Homo sapiens: one gene and its partners. The protein of the gene in region 1 purifies or fractionates together with the protein of each later gene. This does not show direct contact. Each region holds a gene or a part of one and is shown in the gene's direction. Other genes may lie near its edges. The genes, in order: GALNT7, TOR3A, MAN2A2, NXPH1, DNAJC3 and KLK15.

The links.
Region 2: the proteins of GALNT7 (region 1) and TOR3A purify together in Homo sapiens (co-immunoprecipitation; one large-scale study listed by IntAct). This does not show direct contact.
Region 3: the proteins of GALNT7 (region 1) and MAN2A2 purify together in Homo sapiens (affinity purification with mass spectrometry; 2 studies listed by BioGRID and IntAct, with this or other methods). This does not show direct contact.
Region 4: the proteins of GALNT7 (region 1) and NXPH1 purify together in Homo sapiens (co-immunoprecipitation; one large-scale study listed by IntAct). This does not show direct contact.
Region 5: the proteins of GALNT7 (region 1) and DNAJC3 purify together in Homo sapiens (co-immunoprecipitation; one large-scale study listed by IntAct). This does not show direct contact.
Region 6: the proteins of GALNT7 (region 1) and KLK15 purify together in Homo sapiens (co-immunoprecipitation; one large-scale study listed by IntAct). This does not show direct contact.

What each region holds. Positions count from the first base shown.
Region 1 is NC_000004.12:173,241,811-173,245,310, forward strand, and holds part of GALNT7 (N-acetylgalactosaminyltransferase 7), read left to right. Parts: intron 1-3,500. UniProt on the Homo sapiens protein: Glycopeptide transferase involved in O-linked oligosaccharide biosynthesis, which catalyzes the transfer of an N-acetyl-D-galactosamine residue to an already glycosylated peptide.
Region 2 is NC_000001.11:179,088,570-179,092,069, forward strand, and holds part of TOR3A (torsin-3A precursor), read left to right. Parts: intron 1-3,500.
Region 3 is NC_000015.10:90,916,802-90,920,301, forward strand, and holds part of MAN2A2 (alpha-mannosidase 2x), read left to right. Parts: intron 1-1,392; coding exon 1,393-1,587; intron 1,588-1,843; coding exon 1,844-1,954; intron 1,955-2,833; coding exon 2,834-2,986; 3' UTR 2,987-3,500.
Region 4 is NC_000007.14:8,436,609-8,440,108, forward strand, and holds part of NXPH1 (neurexophilin-1 precursor), read left to right. Parts: intron 1-3,500. UniProt on the Homo sapiens protein: May be signaling molecules that resemble neuropeptides and that act by binding to alpha-neurexins and possibly other receptors.
Region 5 is NC_000013.11:95,680,139-95,683,638, forward strand, and holds part of DNAJC3 (dnaJ homolog subfamily C member 3 precursor), read left to right. Parts: intron 1-3,500. UniProt on the Homo sapiens protein: Involved in the unfolded protein response (UPR) during endoplasmic reticulum (ER) stress.
Region 6 is NC_000019.10:50,830,775-50,834,890, reverse strand, and holds the start of KLK15 (kallikrein-15 isoform 4 preproprotein), read left to right. Parts: upstream 1-1,316; 5' UTR 1,317-1,364; intron 1,365-3,367; 5' UTR 3,368-3,398; coding exon 3,399-3,441; intron 3,442-3,597; exon of another isoform or gene 3,598-3,792; intron 3,793-4,116. UniProt on the Homo sapiens protein: Protease whose physiological substrate is not yet known.

The sequences.
Region 1 (3,500 bases):
GGGTGGCATTTAATTGGCTCAAAATGCCCCCTTAGAAACCCGATAAAATCTTCCCAGTAGGTGGCTAAAACTGCTTCACAGACTTGCCCACTTGTAACTGCAGTTACCATAGTATATTAGAAGTCTTGAGATAAAAATAAAAGATATAACTATTAGCTATTCCATAATAGGCATCACTCCATTGTCAAGAGTCCCAGTGTTTCAATCTGTAAAGTAACTTTGGGACGAACTGGTTTACTGTGTAGTACTCAGCCTGGTTACCCTGCTTAAGTTTAATATACAGTATTAGAGTTGCTGACCTTGATTTCTTTTAGTGGAGCATTATGATGTCAACTCTACTATTTTCTCTATTTTGTTACCCTTTGGTTTATATCTTGGCCTGATACTTAAAGAAAGGGAAAAAAAAGATAAAGAAGAATAGCAATTCCTCTAAGCGGGTCTATTTCTTTGAGCAGATAATTCTTACCAGAATATCATACTTTAAGCCACACCTAGAGCTTATATAGAATTTTTATATTTCCATAGTTACCTGAAAGCATGCTTCATCCATTTTCAGTTCTGCCCTAGTTGCTAACAGAGGCATTGCCATTGGAAAGTGGCCTTCAATCTCTTTCTAGTTTAGGGATATTAAAATATACTTGGAAATGGGTCCTTTCCTGTATGGATGACATTCTAGATATTTAAGGACTGGTAAGGTCTCTGTTTAATCTTGGGCTTATCCATTTTAAGCCCTGATTAAGCACAAATTCCTTGACCATGCCCAGCAGGGCTGCAGCTCCCAATGCAGTCATCGCTCAGTGCTCTGAAAGGAGCAAGACATGGAGCTCTTCAGTCAGCCGGAAATGTCTAGTCCATCCAGCTGTAACTAAGCAGAGAGAAAGAAGGGTACTGAGGCTGGTGCACTCCACATTCCCACCCACATCCTGCCACATGTTGGTGAGAGTCTGGGGAGCCCCAGCCTACTGGCACGCCTTGTTCCCTCTGAATTTCTGGAGCTTATTTATTTTTACCACCTCCCTCTCTGCTTTCTGTGTCCATTCCTTCTGCTCCTTTTAGGTAACTGCAGCCAGAGAAAGGATGCTGATAGGATTTTTCTGAAGAAAGGTGTTTTTGATCAAGAGAGTTAAAATCACAGAATGAAGTTTGGCTTGTTATACCTTTAAATTCTGTGGCTCATGAAGCATGATAACCAAGTAGTGTGCATGTTGTTCAAGCAGTGGCCCTTTCCTAAAGCTAAGTCATCATTTCTCAAGAGATCATGTGACTGCATAAGCTCATCATTAAAAGCTTAGTTTTCTAGGCTTCACCTGTGATTTCAAATTCAAACAAGCCTATGTTACTGTCATTTGCTCTAAAGACCATTTTTCTAAATCCCTTTGGATTTATATTATCTCTACCAAGGCATGGCCATCTTGGAAAAATATTACATATAAGCAGGATTTGGGGGTAAGAAGGGGCACTTTGTAAGTTGTAAGGTGGATGGTTACTAGCCTGACCTTACTTCTGGTAATCCATATTACCATCCAGTGATAAGTGGTTATATTTTTCAGTCCATTTCCACCTTTATGAACATACTGATCTTGGAAAATTATCTACTCATCCTCTTTTCCATTTCTGTTTAACAGTGATTCATTAGTTTGGGCTGTAGAGTGGATCAGCTGGTGTTTACGAAGGTATCATTGTACCAGTGAGTCACAGAGGCATCTACTGATTCTCATTCACTCTCAGAAAGGAGGAGTATGTAGCTTTCCTCCTCAGGGGAGTAAAGTATTACACCACTTTATAGCCGTTGTTTGAATCATATAATTAAGATTTGATGTGATTATTCTTAGTTGACTTGGGGTTAGACAGACAATTCTTGTATTTGGTTTTGCCTTCCGATTTAATGACATGCAGCCTCTGAGAAGTGAGCAAATTCAATTTTTCTGGTGCTATTATATGGCATTATTAAAAGTACAGTGCCGTGTAGGGAATATAGAGTTATGTTCTTGGTGAATTCATAAGGTATTGCCAGTACGGGTCTATCTGATTTAAGCCCTGCTCTCCCATTTTGTATTTTCCATTCTTTATCTCCCCTTTTCTTTTCGGAGTCTATCTTACCACCAAAGCAGAAATTTTAGGATTCATTCATTTATTCAGTGAGTATTTATTGAGGAATTATGTGCCAGGATAAGCACTGGGCATGCAGTGGTGCGTACGATGGACATAGCCTCTGCACTTTCACAGAACTTACAGTCTAGTGCAGGGACTAGGGAACCAAATCCAGCCCAACACCTGTCTCTGTAAATACATGGTTACTGGAACACAGCCATACCCATTCATTTACATATTGTCTATGGCTGCTCCCACACTGCAGAGGCAGACTTGAATAATTACCACAGGGACCCTGTGGTCTGCAAAGCCAAACATGTTTACTACTTAACCCTTTGAAGAAAAAGTTTGCTGACCCCTCTCTCATGGATAGTGCTGAAGACATTTCATAAATGCAGTCTAGAACTGGAAAAGCCTTGCCAACCCCCTTGAGGAGTGTGTATTCTCCAGAGGGCAGTGGGCTACTGCTGGAATATGGTAAGCAGGGAAAGAAACATGTTGATGTATGAATTTTAGAAAAGTCCCTGTGGCTGCTGTGTAGGAAGTATGTGTCAGGGCGAGAAGCACTAGGTCATAGTAGTTAAGAGTGTAGATCCTGAGCCAGACTATTTGGATTGAAATTTTGACTCTACTACATACTGATTCTAATCTTAGGTAACTTCCCTGTCAGATGTCCCATCTATAAAATAGACATGGCAATCATAGTACCTAACTCATGGGATTGAATAAGTTAATGTATGTGAAGCACTTAGGACACAGTGTTTACCATCATCACTATTATTCCTATTGTAATCTTGTTCAGAGGTGAGGGTGCCTGAATTAAGGCAGTAGCAGTGAGGATGATAGAAAGAAGTGGCCAGATGGAGGCTCTACACAGGTGATAGAATTGACAGGAATTTATGATTAATTGGATGTCAGAAGGGTAGATAAAAGAGAATAAAAAGTTGAGGGTGATTGCAGGTTTTGGATTTCATCAGTTGAGTGAATGGTGGTTTCAGTCCCTGAAGTAAGGAGACAGTCAGTGAAACAGGCTTGTGATGTGAGGTGAATGATAGGTTCAGTTTTTGGTATGTTAAATTTAGGTACTAGAGAGATATGAATAGAAATGTTCAGGAAGAAGTTGCCTGTAAGGTTTTGAGTTCAGAAAGGTGATACGGGCTGGGGAAATGGATGTAGCAGTGATCACTATAAAACTGGTCACTGAGCTTGGAAGAGAATGAAATAACCTAGAATGAGGATGGAATGACAAATAGACTAATAACAGAACCCTGAAGAACACTAACAGTTTAAGATTAGACAAAGAACCATTAAGTCAAAAAAAAAAAAAAAAAACAACTTTTGGAGGAAAATAAACATGAATTTTTAATCCATTAAAATTTCTGTCATTGAAATAGTTGAATTTGAAAAAT
Region 2 (3,500 bases), on another chromosome or scaffold:
TTCCTTCAGCCTTGGAAGTCTGTTTCTTCTCCGATTATGAGAAGTCATCACTGGCTTAAAATCCAGGGTATACGGGTTGAGAAACCCATGCTTCCTCTGAGTACCTGTAGTTCAGTTGTGACGCTACCATGCGGGACCCAGTCACTGAATCACTGCACTGAGGTTCCTGTGCTTTCACTGACATCTTTGCGTGAAGCCAACTTAGAAATAACTTGTCCAACCTCATCTTTTTGCGGAGGCTCCAACTGGGGGAGTCCTGTGTCTGTTACAAGTCAAGTTTGGGCCCTTGTTGACCCAATTTGAAGGCTTCACAACAGCTCGAGCCTCGGTAGGAGTCAAACTGAGTGCTCCCTTCCCAACTCCACTCCGGCCTCGCCTTCCCCAGGCCAGCACTTGCTTGCTGGGGGGGTTTCCCAAGCTGCAGGGCTCACTTTGTGAGGATGGGGAAGTTGGTGAGGGGATGCTGATTTTCATCCTAGCTTGGGGAGTGTGGAGGGGTGAAGGGTTGAGCTGTGGAGGGCAGATCTAGTTTCGGTGTGGATTCACAAGAGGAAGTGAAACAGGGTCCAGGCGCAGTGGCCTGTCTACTAAAAATACAAAAATTAGCTGGGTGTGGTGGCAGGTGCCTGTAATCCCAGCTACTCGGGAGGCTGAGGCAGGAGAATCACTTGAACCTGGGAGGCAGAGGTTGCAGTGAGCTGAGATCACACCATTGCACTCCCGCCTGGGCAACAAGAGAGAGACTCCATCTCAAAAAAAAAAAAAAAAGTGAAACAGGTTTAAGCCGTTGCTGGGTTGGGATTTCTGTGTAGTGGCGGGAAGCCCTTCCTGGTCTGCAGGTGAAGCTGTGGAGACTTAAAATGCATTGCGAAGTGGGAGGGGAGTGGGGCGCCCAGGGTGATTTTTAAGAGGAGAGAGAGATCTCTTGCATGATTTGGGTGCCCAGAACCAGGAGGTGAGGACAATACATTCTTCCAGTTAGTTCTTATTCCCACGTTCTGTACTATTTCCCACCTTCGGAGGCAGCCGGGCTCACCTCTCCTCCTGTTACAGAGAGTCAGGTGGGGGCTGCAACATGCAGATGAGCCTGAACAGAGGAGTCACCTGGGTGCTCTGTGGTTTCTCCACCTGAGCCCTGGGTCGGGCAGTCCAGGGGACCCTCTGAACCACCGATGCGGAAGCCAGTCCTTCCCACGGCACGGAGCAAAGCATGGTGACCCAGCCTCGGGCCTCCCTTTCGCTTCCACAGGGATCTCCCTTGCGCTGAGTGTCTTCCTCCTCCCTCTCCCCGAGACAGGGGTCTCCCGGCTTCAGGTGGTGCCGGCCACACAGACTCTCCCACCCACTTCTCAGCTTGGAAAACCTCACCTGGGCCGTGATTGCCTAACGTGACCCGGTGACCCTGCAGTCTCCAGGCAAATGTTATAGCCTTTGTAGTATTTTGGCCGTCGACCTGACAGCACCACCCTCCAGCTGCCTGTCCTTTCCCCCAGTGACCCAGCCTGGGTGGACTGTCCGAGGCCATGTGGTTGTGGGCGGGGTGGGGGGGGGGGCCTGCGGGAAAGCCGCCTGCCAGACTCCTCCATGCCACAGCAGGGTGGGGAGGTCCCCCAGGAGCCTTTGACAAGGATGTAAAGGACACATTAAAAAGATGTGGCCTTAGGTTCTAGTGGCTCTGGTGTGGGCCTGTGCCCAGCCTTTACGAGCCAGAGGTTCCCCCCTCCAGCCGAGGGCTGGGCTGACATAGTCTGTGCCCAGGCTGTCCAGGGCAGCAGCCTCTCAACCTCAAGTTCTCAGGTAGTCCAGCGATGGCTGGGAGGAGACACACTGTTGATATTGGAGTCTCTGGACTTGATTTCTATAATGAGCTTCAGTTAATCATCCACTGTAATAAGGATTCTAGGGCATGAAAGAAAAGCACAGCTGATTCAAACTGCTAGAGTGACCAAGTCATACTGCACGAAGGAAGAGCAGCAGTTTAATTCTGAAATAAATCCTAAACCTGCTGTTTGAAGTGAGTTGCCAGTGGCTTTGCTGGCTTCCTCCTGGTGGCAGGAGAGAGGAGGTGGGAGCTGAAGCAGGGAGTTGAGTGTGGTGCTCAGAGCCTGTCCTTCATCCGGGCCAGGGAATTGGGGCCGGTGACTGGGCACCAGGAAAGTAACATTACTTCGCCCACTTCTGCCAAGTATAGAAGGCTGCAGGAATGGGCTCACGTGGCAGGACAGGAACGTGGAACTCTGCGATCGGAGCTGCTGCCCTGTTCTCATGGGAGCTGTAAAGTGACAAGGGTAATTAAAGCCTGTTTCCTTTGTGCTGTTGTCAGGAAAAGGATAGAAAGGACTTTGAAAAATTACAGAACTACACAAATAGAAATTATTTGTGGAGTCGTGGTGGGCCTTGCGCTCCAGCCCCCAGTGTCTGTTGGCTGCCTGTTGACTAATGAGAGGACAGCTTAGATTGGTCCAGTCCTGACTTTATAAATGAGAACACTAAGGCTCAAAGAGATGACTGAGTCTATGTCTGTTCTTTAGGAAAGATGTAGCAGTTAGCATGGGGTTTGTTACCAGTAACAACCAGTTCTCTGGTGAGGCCTGAAGTCCCCTTCCTTTGGGGTCTTAGGGATAAGGGCTGGTGAGATCAGCCCTGGCAGGGGCTGGAGACGGGGGATGAGGGCTGGTTGAGAGAGGTGCCCTCTGGCCCCTCCAGACTTCCCAGCGATCCAGGTCAGCAGATGAGCTGGGAGGCTGTGGAAGGGAATTGAGGTGCTCCAGAAAGACAGTGTCTGTCTAAAGGTAGAACGCTGGTGCCAGAGTGGTGGTCCTGAAGATGGGAGGGGCGGCGCGTAGAGAGGGGCCCCAGGTTATGGGTCAGTGGGTGAGATTAAAGCCTCTAAAGTGGTGGAAGAAAAGGGACTTTGGCTATGGGACAAAACAGGAGAGATTGAGAAGGGTGGAGATGGTGCAGACACATGTGCAGAGATGTCCCTTTATTTACTAAAGGCTGAGTGCCTGATACGCACATAGCACTGGGGTTACAGAAATAAACAGGCCAAGCTTCCTGCCCTATGTGATGGGACCTCTCTTTACCCATGTAAGCACCTTACAGAATGGAGAAGGCCCTGGAGTCCATGCCCCTAGGATGGGGTGAGGGAGTATCACTCTGTGGGGTTTCACAGCACCCTGGATCCTGCCTTCCAGCCCCTGCCAAGGTAAACAGTGCTGCCTGCCTCCTGTGGGGAATGCAGGATGGGGCAATGCCCTGGCAGCAGGGTCTTGCCTCAGCTGATGCAACTGTGGCTGCTCCTGTGTGCACAGATCATGTGCCTGGAAGGCCTTCCTGCAGCAGGGGCAGTGTCAGAAAGTGGAAGAGTGGTGTGAGCAGCTTCCCCGGGGAAAGCCTGGCTGAGCAACTGACCTTGAGCAAGCACTGCAGATGGCCCTTGTTCCTGCCGGGCTCCTCCAGCTGGGAGCTCTCAGCCCCTGGTAAATTCTGGCAGTGAA
Region 3 (3,500 bases), on another chromosome or scaffold:
CATAAGTGCAGACAGTGCTGACTCTCCCAGGAGTTTACTCGTGAGTAGGGGTGGCAGAGAAGCCATGTGTGTAAAAATGCAAGGTAGAAAGGGCTTTGTCTCACTGATCCTGAGGAGCAAGGTAATAATGTGGGCTAAGGAGATCGAGGTCAAGGAGGTGTCACCCAGGTGTGGCTTTGATGAATGGGGTGTGATTTGAAGATATGAACCAGGGCACAGGATAGGAGGCAGGAAAGACAACAGGCTGGGGAATAGCAGTGAGTTCCTTAGTTATGCTGGAGCTATGCTATCCAGTACGGTGGCCAGTAGCCCTATATGGCTATTTAAATTACAACTAAATCAAGTAAAAAATTTGCTTTCTTATTCCTACTGACCACACTTCAAGTACTCAAGTGGCTAAGTGGCTGCCGTATTAGACCATGTGGTGTCGGATATTTCCATCCTTGCAGAATGCCCTCTTGGCTGGTGCTGGGCTAGAGTGCTAGGGGGAGATCAGGGCAGACGGCAGAGCACCTTGAGTGCCTGCTAAGGGATCTGGACTTTATCCTGGCTAGGAAAGGTCCAGGCTAAGGAAAGAGCTGAGCAAGGAGGGACACCGTCAGAACTCTGGTCTCAGCATGTCACGCTGACAGTACGGAGCAGGTTGGATCTGTGGGAAGGGAGACTGGAGGAGGGTGACAGCGGGAGGCTGTTCAGGCAGGACATGCTGGCTGCTTGAACTAGGCCAGAGGCTGGAGAAGTTGCCGGTGGCTATGAGGACACTGCCCAGGTGCGACGGAAGAGGGTTTAGCATTACCTGGGAATGCAGAGGGAAGTGAGAGATGCTGGGCGCTTGGAAGAAGGGGGATGCCAGGGACAGAAGTCCAGAATATTCAGCCCAGGCCTGTGAGTCTGACGTCCAGGTGAGCTGCTAAGGAGTAGCCCTGCTGGCAGAGCCCCGGCCGCGCTGGGCCTGAGAGCCAGGCTGGCACTGTGGATGTGGCATCGCTCGTGAAGCCGCAGATTACCCAGAGCACTCTGGATTGGAGGTCCGTGCTCCATGGTGAGGCCTGCGTCTGCCTGGCTGCCATCCTCCCTGCACTGTGGATCCATGTGTGAGGGGAGACATGGCTGATGGGAGTGGGTTGCTCATGATAGTGTTATGTGAGCAAGGAACTAAAAAGTAGAGAAGAAACAGCTTAGTGAAGTAGCCCTCTGCGTTAGGGGAGACGGCAAATGTCCACACTTGAAGGGTTAGCGGAACCTCGCCTGGAGCCAGGCGTGCCCTTGAGTCCAGGCACACCAGGAAAGGTCTTTCCAAAACAACTGACCTGGGTGTGCTTTTATCCTGCCTCGTCCTCTCCCCTCAGCCTGGCTTTGGTCCCTCACCAATATCTCGGGTCAATTTTGCAGGTCCAAGATAGCCACTCTACCAGCTACCCATCCCTCCTCAGCCACCTGACCTCCATGTACCTGAACGCCCCGGCGCTCGCTCTGCCTGTAGCCAGGATGCAGCTCCCAGGCCCTGGTCTGCGCTCATTTCATCCTCTGGCTTCCTCACTGCCCTGTGACTTCCACCTGCTCAACCTACGTACGCTCCAGGCTGAGGTGAGTGTCCCTCAGCGTGACATGCTGAGAGCAGAGTTCTGATGGTGTCCCTCCCTGCTCAGCTCCTTCCTTAGCCTCCAGGATGAGGTCCAGACCCCTTAGCAGGTATTCGGCTCCAAACCTCCAGGACCAGGTTTTGGCCTTTCCTTACCCACACGCCTCCCTGTGCCAGCACTGCCTCTGGGCAGAGGCGCTGCTGCATCTCCGATCTCTGAAAGCCCTGCGCCCACTTCCCTGGGCACTGTCTGTCATCCAGGAGGACACCCTACCCTCGGCGGAGACCGCACTCATCTTACACCGCAAGGGTTTTGACTGCGGCCTGGAGGCCAAGAACTTGGGCTTCAACTGCACCACAAGCCAAGGCAAGGTGAGTAGGGTGGGGAAACAGAGCACCTAGGAATGGCAGGCATGAGCTTGGTAAGACTGGGCTGAGATTCGGTGACAGGCTGGGAGAAGAAAGTGTCACTCCAGGGCTTTCTGGAGAGAAGGGGGGAAGCTGTAGACATGTTTTCAGAGCTCCGGAGGCCTGGCAGGGGGAGTTCCAGACAAGGTAGATCGCTTGAGAACTTTTGTTCCCTGAGCAGGGACCTCTATCAAGCAAAGTGGAAAACACCAGAAATAGAAAACCAGAACCCATCCTGTTGTTACTTTGTAAGCTCATATCAGCCGGCACTGATAAATGTCCCCGGGTGCCAGGTCCTCTGCTGGGCTCCAGTGTTTCAGAAGTGAACCAAGACATGGTCACTGTTTTCACAGAGCTCACAGCTCAGTGGAACGGTTCTTACCCAGAGATCTGTAGGCAGGCTTTAGGGTTGAGCAAATCTCAGCAAGCCCGTGAGACTGGATGCACACTCATGTGTAAGAAGGCATGGTGTTGCTGAGAGGGGCCAGCCGGAACTGGAGTGCAGTGGCGTGATCGCAGCTCACTGCAACCCCCGCCTCCTGGTTCAAGTGATCCTCCTGCCTCAGCCTCCCGAGTAGCTGGGATTACAGGCGCCTGCCCCCACGCCCAGCTAATTTTTATATTGTTAGTAGAGACGGGGTTTCGCCATGTTGGCCAGGCTGGTCTCGAACTCCTGACCTCAGGTGATCCACCCGCCTTGGCCTCCCAAAGTGCTGGGATTACAGGTGTGAGCCACTGCCCCTGGCTGAGATTCTTAAAGAGGTACCAAATTGTAGATGAACAGCCACATTCTTTAGTGTCTCGGCACCTAGCACAACCCTGCCCCTTCTCTGCTCTCCACAGGTAGCCCTGGGCAGCCTTTTCCATGGCCTGGATGTGGTATTCCTTCAGCCAACCTCCTTGACGTTACTGTACCCTCTGGCCTCCCCGTCCAACAGCACTGACGTCTATTTGGAGCCCATGGAGATTGCTACCTTTCGCCTCCGCTTGGGTTAGGGCTTCTTGTGGCCTGAAGAGAAAGTTCATTCACAGAGACTGCCTCTTAACATGAAGATCATTGGACAAGCCACACGGGTATCCCATCCCGATCTGCCTCCCAGAACTGTGACACACTGGGCTCTGCCCTCATTTTCTGTTTATTGCTGCTGCTGTGTTTTCGGCGCAACCCACAAACCCAGTGATGGGTAAATAGGGCAGACGCCAGTGAGATCAGGGAGAGAAGGCCCTTGGTCAGAGTGGGCAGTGCCAGGCTCTGCTTTGGGTTGTGAGTGGACACCCAACTGGGCACAGGCTCAGGCACCCATCCTTTTTCCAAACAGGGATATAGAAGTGGTGGAAGCAGACAGAAGAGGTAAGGGAGGCTAAGTGGGTAACAGCCCAGCATCAGGGTCACTGTGGCAACAGCAGGCTCTAGGGGAATCCTGTGGTTATGTAGAGACTCCATGTCCTGGTGTGATGAGCAGGATCAGAGTGACTCTGGGAGGACAGGGGTGGGGACCCAGAGTTAGCA
Region 4 (3,500 bases), on another chromosome or scaffold:
CAGGTCTGGCTTCTGGGGTGGGAATGGGGGAATGGGGGTAAGGGACACTTGTGCCCTGCTGGTGAAGTTGTGTTCAGTGTCCCGACCCCCATAGCCCATCCTGGGCTGCGGGAGTGCACCGAGGGCTCGCTATGTTCTGTCTAGGGGTGAGGTGCGCTAAAGCAGCCCGAACTCTCTGATGGGCTACACCTCTGATTGGAGGTGATACTGGCGCTCCTCAATCCCAAGAGCCTTAGATAGAACCCATAAGCCTGAAAGAATTGCCATCCCTACAATTGACAGCGTTTCTCGGCCGTTGCCCTGGTGCATGTGGCTGCAAAGCTGCGAGTTGTGTGAATTCTGTGTATGTGAGTGACACGTATATATATGTGTGTGTGAATGTGTATTTAACCGATTTCAGCTTCAATCCAAGAACCCTCAATGTTGCCTGTCTTTGCCCCTTTATCGCCTGACCGTAGCAGCCGCGGACGCCAGAGGGCGCTGCGCATCAGCGTCCTCGCCCACAGGACACCTTGGGGTAAACAGGTGAAAGCCAGGGCAGCCAATCCAAAAGAACAGCCTTTCTGACTCTGTCACCGAAGTCTGTGCCTTTACCCGCTGGAACGCAGGCGGAATGCAAAAAGTGTCCTTCCCATTTCCCATCTTCAATCATTTTCACCCCCACCTGTGTTCAGTAAGCCCACTGACATTGAGAGACCATGGATGGAGGGCAGAAAGTTTGGCCAGAAGAAATATAGAATTTTTTTATTGAGAGATGGGGGGAGGGAATGCAAAGTGAAAGCGACGGGGGCGGGGGGGAGGTAATTTTAAGGATTCCCTTGACCATCGTAACCCGCTTGCCCTTTTCCTCTGCATACCTTTACGCCTGACCTGAACTTGAGGACTGTTCTTACGTCCTTGGGCTGTGCTCACACACACGGCAAGGGCTTGTGGCTATGGTGCAGTTTATTGCTTGGAGCAAGTATTTCGATAGTCTGGAAAATAATCTATCAAAAGCAGAAGTGAAATCAATACTTTGTGTTAAATTTTAAATGTGTTTGTTGGCAGTTAAACCGTTTTCCACTCATTACAACAACAGTGCTGGATTTATTCTAATGCGCTGCGTTCTCAACAACAAGCGCATTAATTCTCCTTTAATTGTAAACTGGGAGCATTTGAAAACCATTCAGTGTGCAAATTATGCTGATTCAATTACCGTTTAGTTACAGACTTCATTACCTGAATGCCTTTTGGCAATACAGAGAAAGGAGACAATTTTTCCAATTTCACTCAAAACAATACGAAATGTGAACAATAAAATAGAGAAGGCTATTTAGAAGTCCGTTCTTTTTTCTCCAATCTAAAGTACTTTTGTGTGTCGGGGACTAGAAACCACATGCACCACAAAAACTACAGCTGATGGCTGTGACCCAAGGCAGTATTTCCAGGGATTGTAATCCCATGGATATTTGCCAGCAGAATTCCGAGCTGTTTTCCTGAAGGAGCAAAAAGCTGACTTCTACCATGGAAATGAATTTAAAAGGGTGAATTGGGCAGTCATTTCGGGATGGTTTTAGGCAAATAAAGAAGTAGAGAGCCTTGATTAAAACTCTAGGGCAATGAACCGATCAAGAAGTGATCAAGGCTTCTTTCTTCATCTATTTCATTAAATACCAGATACAGTTAACTGGATTGATCATTTGTTTGTAGCTGCACATTGGAAGATCTTATCCCTTTGTAAGAACCTGCACTGGATGCATACAGATTGTCAGGAGCTGCTTTAAGTTACATTCAAAGAAGGCAAGAGTGGCAAAACCATTATTTTAATTTTCTCTTGAACTGACATAAGCCAGGGAAGAATTTGATGGATAATTTTTGTCTTTGTGAGCTCACACCACTAGTTAAGTGCCTGCATCACTCTGTTTATGCCTTACCTCTTAGCTGATATCTCAGTGCACCTTGACCTTTAAGCCCATGGTATCCTAGTTATGTTTCCCAGGGAGTAATCACCACATTAAGTCCATGAAACAAGACTTGTCTAGTTATCTCCTAAAGAAATATTTAGGCTTCTGTTTAAAGTGAATACCTTAAATACCCCCAAATTTGAGAATAACTTCTTATGAAAACTCTGCAGTAGGTCAATGCCCCACACCAAGCCACAGTTTCCTACCTGTATTTGGGTGAATGTTTGCAAAGTATGTTTCTGGGCCCGGGATTCTTTGAATGCTTTAGGTTGAGGATTTTTGTGTTTTTTGAGAGACAAGTCTGTCCTAGTTCAAAATAGAAGCTTATTTTAGTACTTTAATGGGAAACTAATTAGATATGTGCCCACAGAGTTACCTTCTGAAGCATGTTAGCTGGAATACTCAAAATCCACCACAGGACAAGCTCCAGCCATAAATGCATGGGGGTGGGAAACTAACTTTTAAAAATAAAGGTAAATAAAATTTCAGACTATTGAATGTTATGTATTGCAGATTTAAAAGCCTGAATTCAATAGGAGAGAAGTCTATGGTTAACAACGCTTATTAAAAATAATAAAAAAGTTTTGCAATCTTTATTCTCTTATTATTCCTGGACCAATTCCAGGATATTTTCAGTATGATACAATGGGATGGCAGGATGATAGCATTTTAACTTTATTGAAGCATATATTGAATCAGCTAGAAAAATATGGTTCCTTGCTCTGAAGAGTGGGGGTTCTAACTTGAATCAGCCTCATTGGATCAAGTAGAAGGATAGGCCAGGACACCAGGAAAGCATCTCCCACAGGGTGTGGCATTCTGTTTGGGGGCTCACCTGTGGTAACTCTCAGTTAGAGAGGTGAGTCTAATGAGCACTTTCTGAGCATGCTAATGAAAAAGCTACTCAGAAATTGAATCCAATGCATCCGACAAGGCATTGTATAAAGTTACTGTGACTAGTCACCCATCCACAGCTCTATTCTAATGAGAAGGGGTCCCACCATTTCTGCTAGGAATTAAATTGCTAATAATCAAGTTGCTTTTTAAATCAAAATAGGCATGAATTAAAAATCCTTTCTAAACTTGTGCCACATTATGAGCCATCTATTCTCTCAAATTTGGGATATCCTTAAAATGTGAATTCTACACCAATTGTTTAATAGAGTTTGGAGAGTAATTAATGTATCTATGGGACCACTACCTCTGCACTGTTAAAAGCTAGATCATTTGGGTGAAATCCACTCATTATGAAGATGGCTGTTAAGGTATATTGGAGCTGGGGGAAAAGCAGAGGGAGAGAGACCAGCAATGTCTTTTCTTTGGACTAGGTATGTGTGCTTCTCATTCTTTAAAAATTAAGCCAGCTGCACACTGAAAATTCTAATCAATTTGAGCTTATTACTGAAAATAAACAAAATAAAATAAATTTCCTGACAGTGGCTATTAAGTGTTCCCTATTAAGGCTAGTTCTTGGAGGCAGTACTAAAAGTTTCTCATTCCACTGCATTTCCTGACTCTTCTACTACAGACCAGCCTTTTAGATACATACGGGATTCA
Region 5 (3,500 bases), on another chromosome or scaffold:
TAAGGAAGTTATTTCATTTCTTTGCTAATGGTTTGTCCTCTTGGTGACTTGAGTAGCAACACAGCCTGGGAACGAAACCTTTTTTCTCTTATCATAGTTTTATCTCTTTTTCTTCCTTAACATGCTATCTGGACCCAATTTTTCTTTATTTCATTGAGCTGATTAAACCATATATTTTGGCCATGGGGAAAAGAATAGTTGAAAATATATAGTTGAAAATCTATACGTATAAAATATTGTGATAAGTTTTATTTGAACCATGATAAGTTTTATTTGAACCTAACCTATTAAAGGTATGTTTTGTCTTTTCTAGGATTTTCTTGACATTATCTAAATAGGGAAAGAATAAAGTAGCAAAAATGAGTGACTTTAAGTAATTTAAATAAATTAAGTATCATAAAAGGTGGTCACATATTTTCTAGAATTATTTTAAATTCTTTAATAAGATAGGCTGTAGTTAGCAGTAGTATCAAAGTTCCAGTTCTCTTGACATAGTTAGTATTTGCTGAGAAACTGCCTGGAAATGCAGTGGTTTTCATTCTGTGAGGTAGGGGAAGTTGTTCTGGGAGGGGATGCACTGTAGTAATTAGGTTTTATTTTCCCATATGAAGTTAATTAATTGTTGTTAAGTTTAATTTCTACTGCTGTGGTCTCTTTTGATTAGTGTCCTGCAGTTAATCTTTGTTTATATGGAAGTATCATGGGAACCCATTCACCTGCTCTTCAGAACGCAAACATTTCAACCATAGATTTATTTTTCTTTCCATATCTTTAGAAAGCTACTTAAAAAAATTAAATCTGATGAGTTTGTATCATTTGGAGTTCTGGAATATGGAGAAGACTCATTTAATCAGTCAGCAAAGGCTTTTACTAACTATATTGCTCTTTGGTGAGGTATATATACGTAGCATAGAACTCATGGCTTTTGCTTTTGAGTTTACAGACCACTTAGGGTTTAAGACATGCATTTGTGAAGCATTCACGTCCTCTTTTTCTCCTTTCCCGCTTTAGACTGAGTGGTCCATTATTGTAGTTAGTGTACTGCAAATGCCCATTTATTTTCTGGCCCCTGTAATCTTCTGTTTTACTCACCTGCCAAAACCCAACACTGGTTAAATTCAACTTGGCCAACTGTTTTTATACCTTATAGGTAAACACGGACGGAGGAAAATGGAGACAACTTTGCTGATTAGTCTCATTTATCTTTATTTTTATTTTCAATTTTTTTTCGAGACAAGGTCTTGCCCTGTCACCCAGGCTGGAGTGCAGTGGCATGATCCTAGCTCAATGTAGGCTTGACCTCCTGGGCTCAAGCAGTCCTCCCATCTCAGCCTCCTGAATAGCTGGGACCACAGGTATGCACCACTGCATCCCCTACTAAGTTTTTAAAATTTTTTGTAGGGACAGGGTCTTCTATGTTGCCCAGGCTGGTCTTGAACTCCTGGGCTCAAGCAATCCTCATCCCTTGGCCTCCCAAAGTGTTGAGATTACAGGCACGAGCCAATGCACCTGGCCCTGATTAGTCTCATTTTAAAGAAACAATCTCAGTCGCAAATGCACATTAAATACTGCTAACACTCCCACAATTCTTTACTATGTCTATTCTTGAAAATCAATATTTCAAACATTTTCCTCCTTTCTGAAGCCTCTAATTTAAACTCTCCTTTCCTCTCTCCCCTACCTCATTCTTTTAGACCTTGTCTTTACTGAGAAAATGAAAGCCATCACAAGGCAAGTTCTTCTTTCTACCTCAAAATTCACTAGCTTATCTACATTTGTACCTATTCTGCTACTTTTTCTCATATTGAAATACATTAAATGTCTCTATTCCCAGATAAATCTAATCTGTGTACTTACACCCTGGATTCCATTTCCTCTCACCTTCTGAAAATGTTGCTCCTACAGTTGTATCTTTGTGCTGCTATAACAAAATACCACAGACTGAGTAATTTATAAAAAAAATTTCAACCTGAATTTTGGAGAGAACATTCAGATAATAGTAGATGCTGAACTTCCTGTACTATCTTTCTTTGGCTAGATTCCACTGTCTTCTGTGTTTCTGCTACAAGACTTCTTTTAGACTCTACCCCACCTTGCTAGAGTCTTGGCTTAGCCTTCTGTTCTTTTTTAGAGAAGAAACTTAGGGCTTTCCTCATTCCTCATATTCTAAGTGCTCCAACCTGAATAACCATCTCTCTCTCTGGGATTGCTCTCTGGTCTGGGTCTGCCACCGCCTTTGCTTGAACTTTAGTATCTTTGACTATGAGTTCTTGCCTCCTTTAGTCTGGTTCTTCCAGTCTTGATTGTAACTCACGTCATACCTTTAACCCCCCACCTTTAAGTTTAAAAAAATCCTTATTTTCTGCTCTCCAAAATATAAGATATTCTAATACTAATTTCAGTGAAAGACATAGTTGGCTACTCTACCTTTTTCCCTGCCCTTGCTGCTTATTTTGCTGACTTATGATCACTGCTTGTCTAAGGAGAAACCTATTGTCTAATGCTGATTAGGAAATGGCATGATGTTTGGTTGTCTTACCTCTCTGAAAATAATGTTTACAGACCATGTGGCAAAGGAATAAAAATTACCTGTGGCTCAAAAGAGAGTGGATTGCAAAAACAGCCAATAATTCGCAAATAATTTGATTTTTCAGATGTGTCTTTATGAATCATTGATCATATGTTTGACTTGATAATTGTTATGTATTTTAGATTTTATTCTGATGAATTATAATACGTTTAAGTAAAAAGGCAAATAGTTAAATTCATTCAACAAATATTGCATACCCACTATGTGCGGGATACTGAATTAGGTGATACAAAGAAGAAAAGACAGCTCCTCCTCTCAAACTTGCTTTTGATAAGTTTTGTGGAGTTGGGACTTTGAGAAGCAGGCAAATTGTGAAAAGCAATATATAGAGAGAGTGATATTGCAAAGTGAAGTCATGTACTTCTGAGTGTGGAAATGCAAAATATAGGAAGATTGAAGGAGCTTTTTTTCCCTCTCTCAAAACAATACAGTGTGAGGGAAGGTTTCACAAAGGAGCCAGCATTTGAGGGCAGAATCTTTTTTTTTGTTTAACTTTATTTTATTTTAGATTCAAGATATACATGTGCAGGTTACATGGGTATATTGTGTAATGGTGGGGTGGTATGATTTAGATCTGTGCCCCACCCAAATCTCATGTTCAGCTGTAATCCCCAGTGTTGGATCTGGGGCCTGGTGGGAAGTGATTGGATCATGGGGGTGGTTTCTAATGGTTTAGCACCATCCCCCAGAGCTGTTATTGTGATAGAATTCTCACAAGATCTGGTTGTTTAAAAGTGTGCAGTATCTCCCCCCTCTCTGTCTTCCTCCGGCTCTGGCCATGTGAAGATGTGCCTACTTCTCCTTTACCTTTTGCCATGATTGTAAATTTCCTGAGGCCTCCCCAGCCATGCTTCATGTACAACCTACAGAACCGTCAGCCAATTAAACCTCTTTTCTTTATAAATTACCC
Region 6 (4,116 bases), on another chromosome or scaffold:
GATTCTAGCAATCTCAGAATCGTGAAAGCCAGGTCCCTGTCTCTCAATTCAGCCTTTTAAAAATTTATTTACTTATTTATTTATTTATTTAGATTTTTCATAGAGATGAGGTATTGCTGTGTTGCCCAGGCTGGTCTCAAACCCTTCAGTTCCAGCAATCCTCCTACCTCAGCCTCCCAAAGGCATGAGTCACTGGGCCCAGCCACAGTCCAGGTTTTCAATGCAAAAACAGATTTGAAACTCCAGACTGTATGTTCCAAAGTCTACTCCTGAAAGCTCAGAGGCTAGATCCACCCTGTAGAATCCAGACCCCAAGCCTGGCATGGTGTCTCACGCCTGTAATCCCAGCACTTTAGGAGGCTGAGTCAGGTGGATCACTTGAGATGAGGAGTTCGACACCAGCCTGGCCAACATGGTGAAACCCTGTCTCTACTAAAAATATAAAAATTAGCTGGGCGTGGTGGTGGTCGCCTGTAATCCCAGCTACTCAGGAGGCTGAGGCAGGAGAATCTATTGAGCCCAGGAAGTGGAGGTTGCAGTGATCTGAGATCACGCTATTGCACTCCAGCCTGGGTGACAAGAGCGAAACTTCATCTCAGAAAAAAAAAAAAAAAGAATCCAGACCCCACAATTCAAAATCCCAAATCTACCATTTGTAGTCTAGGCCCCAGGCTTCTCATAGCAGGTGCAAAGGTTTCCAGCCTCGATTGCCAGATTCCAAACACCAGATTCCAGGCTCCTATTGTGGGTTCTAGATTCGAATGCCCCGGGATCCAGAATCAAGGTTCACGATCTGTCACTCAAAGGCCCGACTCCAGGATCCAGATTCCAGACCCCCAGCCCAAGAACTCAGACTTTGAAATCCATATTCCAGACTGCAGGTCATTAATCTCCAACTCAAGATCCTCAAATCCAGAATCCAAGACCCAGATCCAGAACCAGATCCGGATCCAGAACCCGGGATCCAGAACTCTGCCCCAAGCCCAAGAACAGGGACTTTAGGATCCAGTTTCCACACTCCAGACCCCAAATTCCAGACTCTGTCTTTTGATCTCCTCCTAATTTCTGTTTTTGTCCTCCTGTCCCCTCCCCCTTGAGGAACTGCTCCTGGTGGAGAATTCCTCTTTGTGGACTCAGACAACAGCTTCAACCTAATAAATGCTCATTAGGCCAAGTCTCCCACCCCACCAGCAACCAAGGCGTCTCTGCCTGTAAACCTGACTCTCAGCCACCTCCCACCCCACCCTACACCACCACACCCCCAGACCCAGCTGGGACTGGGAGCTTATAAATTCAGGCATCCTGGTACCTGCTCCCTTCTGGCACCCAAGCTGCCCTAGATGCTGCTGGAGGATCTGGAGGAGGTGAGAGCTTTGAGACAAGACTGAGGGAGGGGCAAAGGGGAGATTCACTGTGCCCTGGTTTCAAGGGGAAACGTTGACCACGCTTGGAGAACTGAGTGTCAAGGGCATGGGTAGATCCACGTGTCCTTTACCAATGCCCCAAATTGAACCTGAACCAAGAAAATGTCCTGGAATGGCCAGAAGGAGCTGCAGTGGTGGGGAGGGAGGGGGATGGAGTGGATCAGGAGGACGTCCCTGAAGTACTTGTATCAGAGCCAAGAACGTGGTCAGGAGTGATCACGGGTTCAAGTCAGTTCAGCACAACCTCCCGGAGGCCTCCTGTGTACCAGGCCCCAGGTGGGGCAGTGCTGAGGTCACAGAAAGAACCTGACCTGAGCCCCATCTTCAAGACCCCCAGATGGAGAAAAGAACAGGCCAGACCTCAGCAAGTATGGGGCATCTGCGCTGTAATGGAGACAGAATGGGTGCTGTGGGATTCAGGGGAGACACCTGTTAGGTGTTGGGGCCTCCCAGAAGAGGTGGGGGCAGAGTGTCAGAGGACAAAGATGAATTTGGAAGATATGGGGAAGAAGGATTTCAATTCACCCTCAAAGCTTCCTGAGGCCTCCCGTGGGTCGGGCCCTGCAGTACTGGAGACCCAGAGTGGAGTCAGACCAGCTCCTCGGGGAGCTGCCAGTCTCGTAGGGGAGGCAGACACCACTGAGGGTCAGGGGAGGTCAGAGAAGGCCTCAAGGAGGAAGCGGGGCTGGAAGGGAATGGCGTTGGATATGCGGTGGGAGGAATAGCCTAAGCATGAAATGGCAGGAGGGAAAATGGCAGCACTGGCTGCGTCTAGGACAAGGTCATGGGAGACCCAGGGAGAGGGGCTGGAAGGGAAGAAGCCACTTTTGTCCTTGAAAGTGAGGCTGGAGCCAGGCAACTCATGCCTGTAATCCCAGCACTTTGGGAGGCTGAGGCGGGTGGATCACTAGAGGTCAGGAGTTCAAGACCAGCCTGGCCAACATGGTGAAACTCCGTCTCTACTAAAATTACAAAAATTAGCTGGGCGTGGTGGCACACACCTGTAATCCCAATTGCTTGGGAGGCTGAGGCAGGAGAATCTCTTGAACCCAGAAGGCAGAGGTTACAGTGAGCGGAGATCACGCCACTCCACTCCAACCTGGGCTACAGAGCCAGACTCCGTCTCAAAAAAAAAAAAAAAAAAGAAAAAAAAAGAAAGAAAGTGAATTTGAAGAGCTGGACTTTATCCTGGTGGTGCCAAGGATCCATGGAGGGTGGTGAGCAGGGGAGGGGCACAGCCAGCTCCAGATGTAGAAAGACCCTTTGGGGTCATGGCTGGAGGGCAAGCTGGTGGAGGGGACTGGACTGGAGGGGGACCCAAAAGGCCAGATAAGAGGGTTGAGATAGACCAGGCGCGGTGGCTCATGCCTGTAATCCCAGCACTTTGGGAGGCCGAGGTGGGTGGATCATGAAGTCAAGAGATTGAGGCCATCCTGGCTAACACGGTGAAACCCTGTCTCTACTTAAAAAAAAAAAATTTCCAAAAAATTAGCCGGGCACGGTGGTGGGCGCCTGTAGTCCCAGCTACTCGGGAGGCTGAGGCGGGAGAATGGTGTGAACCTGGGAGGTGGAGCTTGCAGTGAGCCGACATTGTGCCACTGCACTCCAGCCTGGGTGACAGAGTGAGACTCCGTCTCAAAAAAAAAAAAAAGTTGGGACAGGGGTCCTTGGTGATGATGGAGAGAGATCCAGGGGCTGGTAGCATGGTGCTGGAGGCTGACAGGTGGAGGAGGTGGGGCAGGGTCTGTCCGAGTGCCTAGAGGAAGAGTAAACCTTCCAGAGATGGGGGACCCAGAAGGAAGCGCAGAGTGGGGTTGGGGGAAGGGGATACCGGTGGTCAGAAGAAATTTATTAACAGTGGATGGGATAAGTCTGTGTCTGGAGGGATCCTGGTGGAGGCAGAAGGGTCCTGCCTCACCTGGATTCTCTCACTCCCTCCCCAGACTGCAGCCGAACCCTGGTCCCTCCTCCACAATGTGGCTTCTCCTCACTCTCTCCTTCCTGCTGGCATCCACAGGTGAGGTGGCCCCAGGAGGGGGCCAGGTCTGTGGGAGCAGGTGCCCCCTTCCCAAGCATGTCTGGGCCCAGTGATCTGCCAGCCCCTACCTCACCCAGAGACCACTAAAGATCCTTCCTTCACCCTCCACCTGTGCCAATGTCCCTAAGCCCTTACCGTCAGGTGCTGGTGCTGCTGCTCTGGAGTCGCTATGTTGCCTGGGGCCTCTCGCTGCCCACGACAAGGAACACGGTCCTGGGGTTACACAAACCTGAGCTGAGTCCTGGGGCAACCGCTTCCTTGCTGTGTGTCCTTGAGGGAACTGCTTCACCTCTCTGGGCTTCGAATGCCTTCTCTATAAGACAGCACCCACTTGAGACAATAACAGTGAGGTCTCAATAGCATAACAGAGGTAATATACATAGCAAGCATTAGACAAGTGCTGAGAGGCCAACAGCACAGACAGACTCCAGCTTGAGTCCCACACCTGCCACTCCCTGTCTCTTACAGGGTCTTTGAGGGGATTAAATGTGGTTGTGTGTGAGGCAGAAGCATAAGCCTGGCCCAGGTAGTGCCCCTTCAGGTGTGCAAGCCAGGCACGGTGCTTAGAGCTTACATACAACGTCTATGTGTGGTGGGCACCACCGACCTCATTTGACAAGGGAAGGGGCTGTGGCTCAGAGGGACGGCCACAAC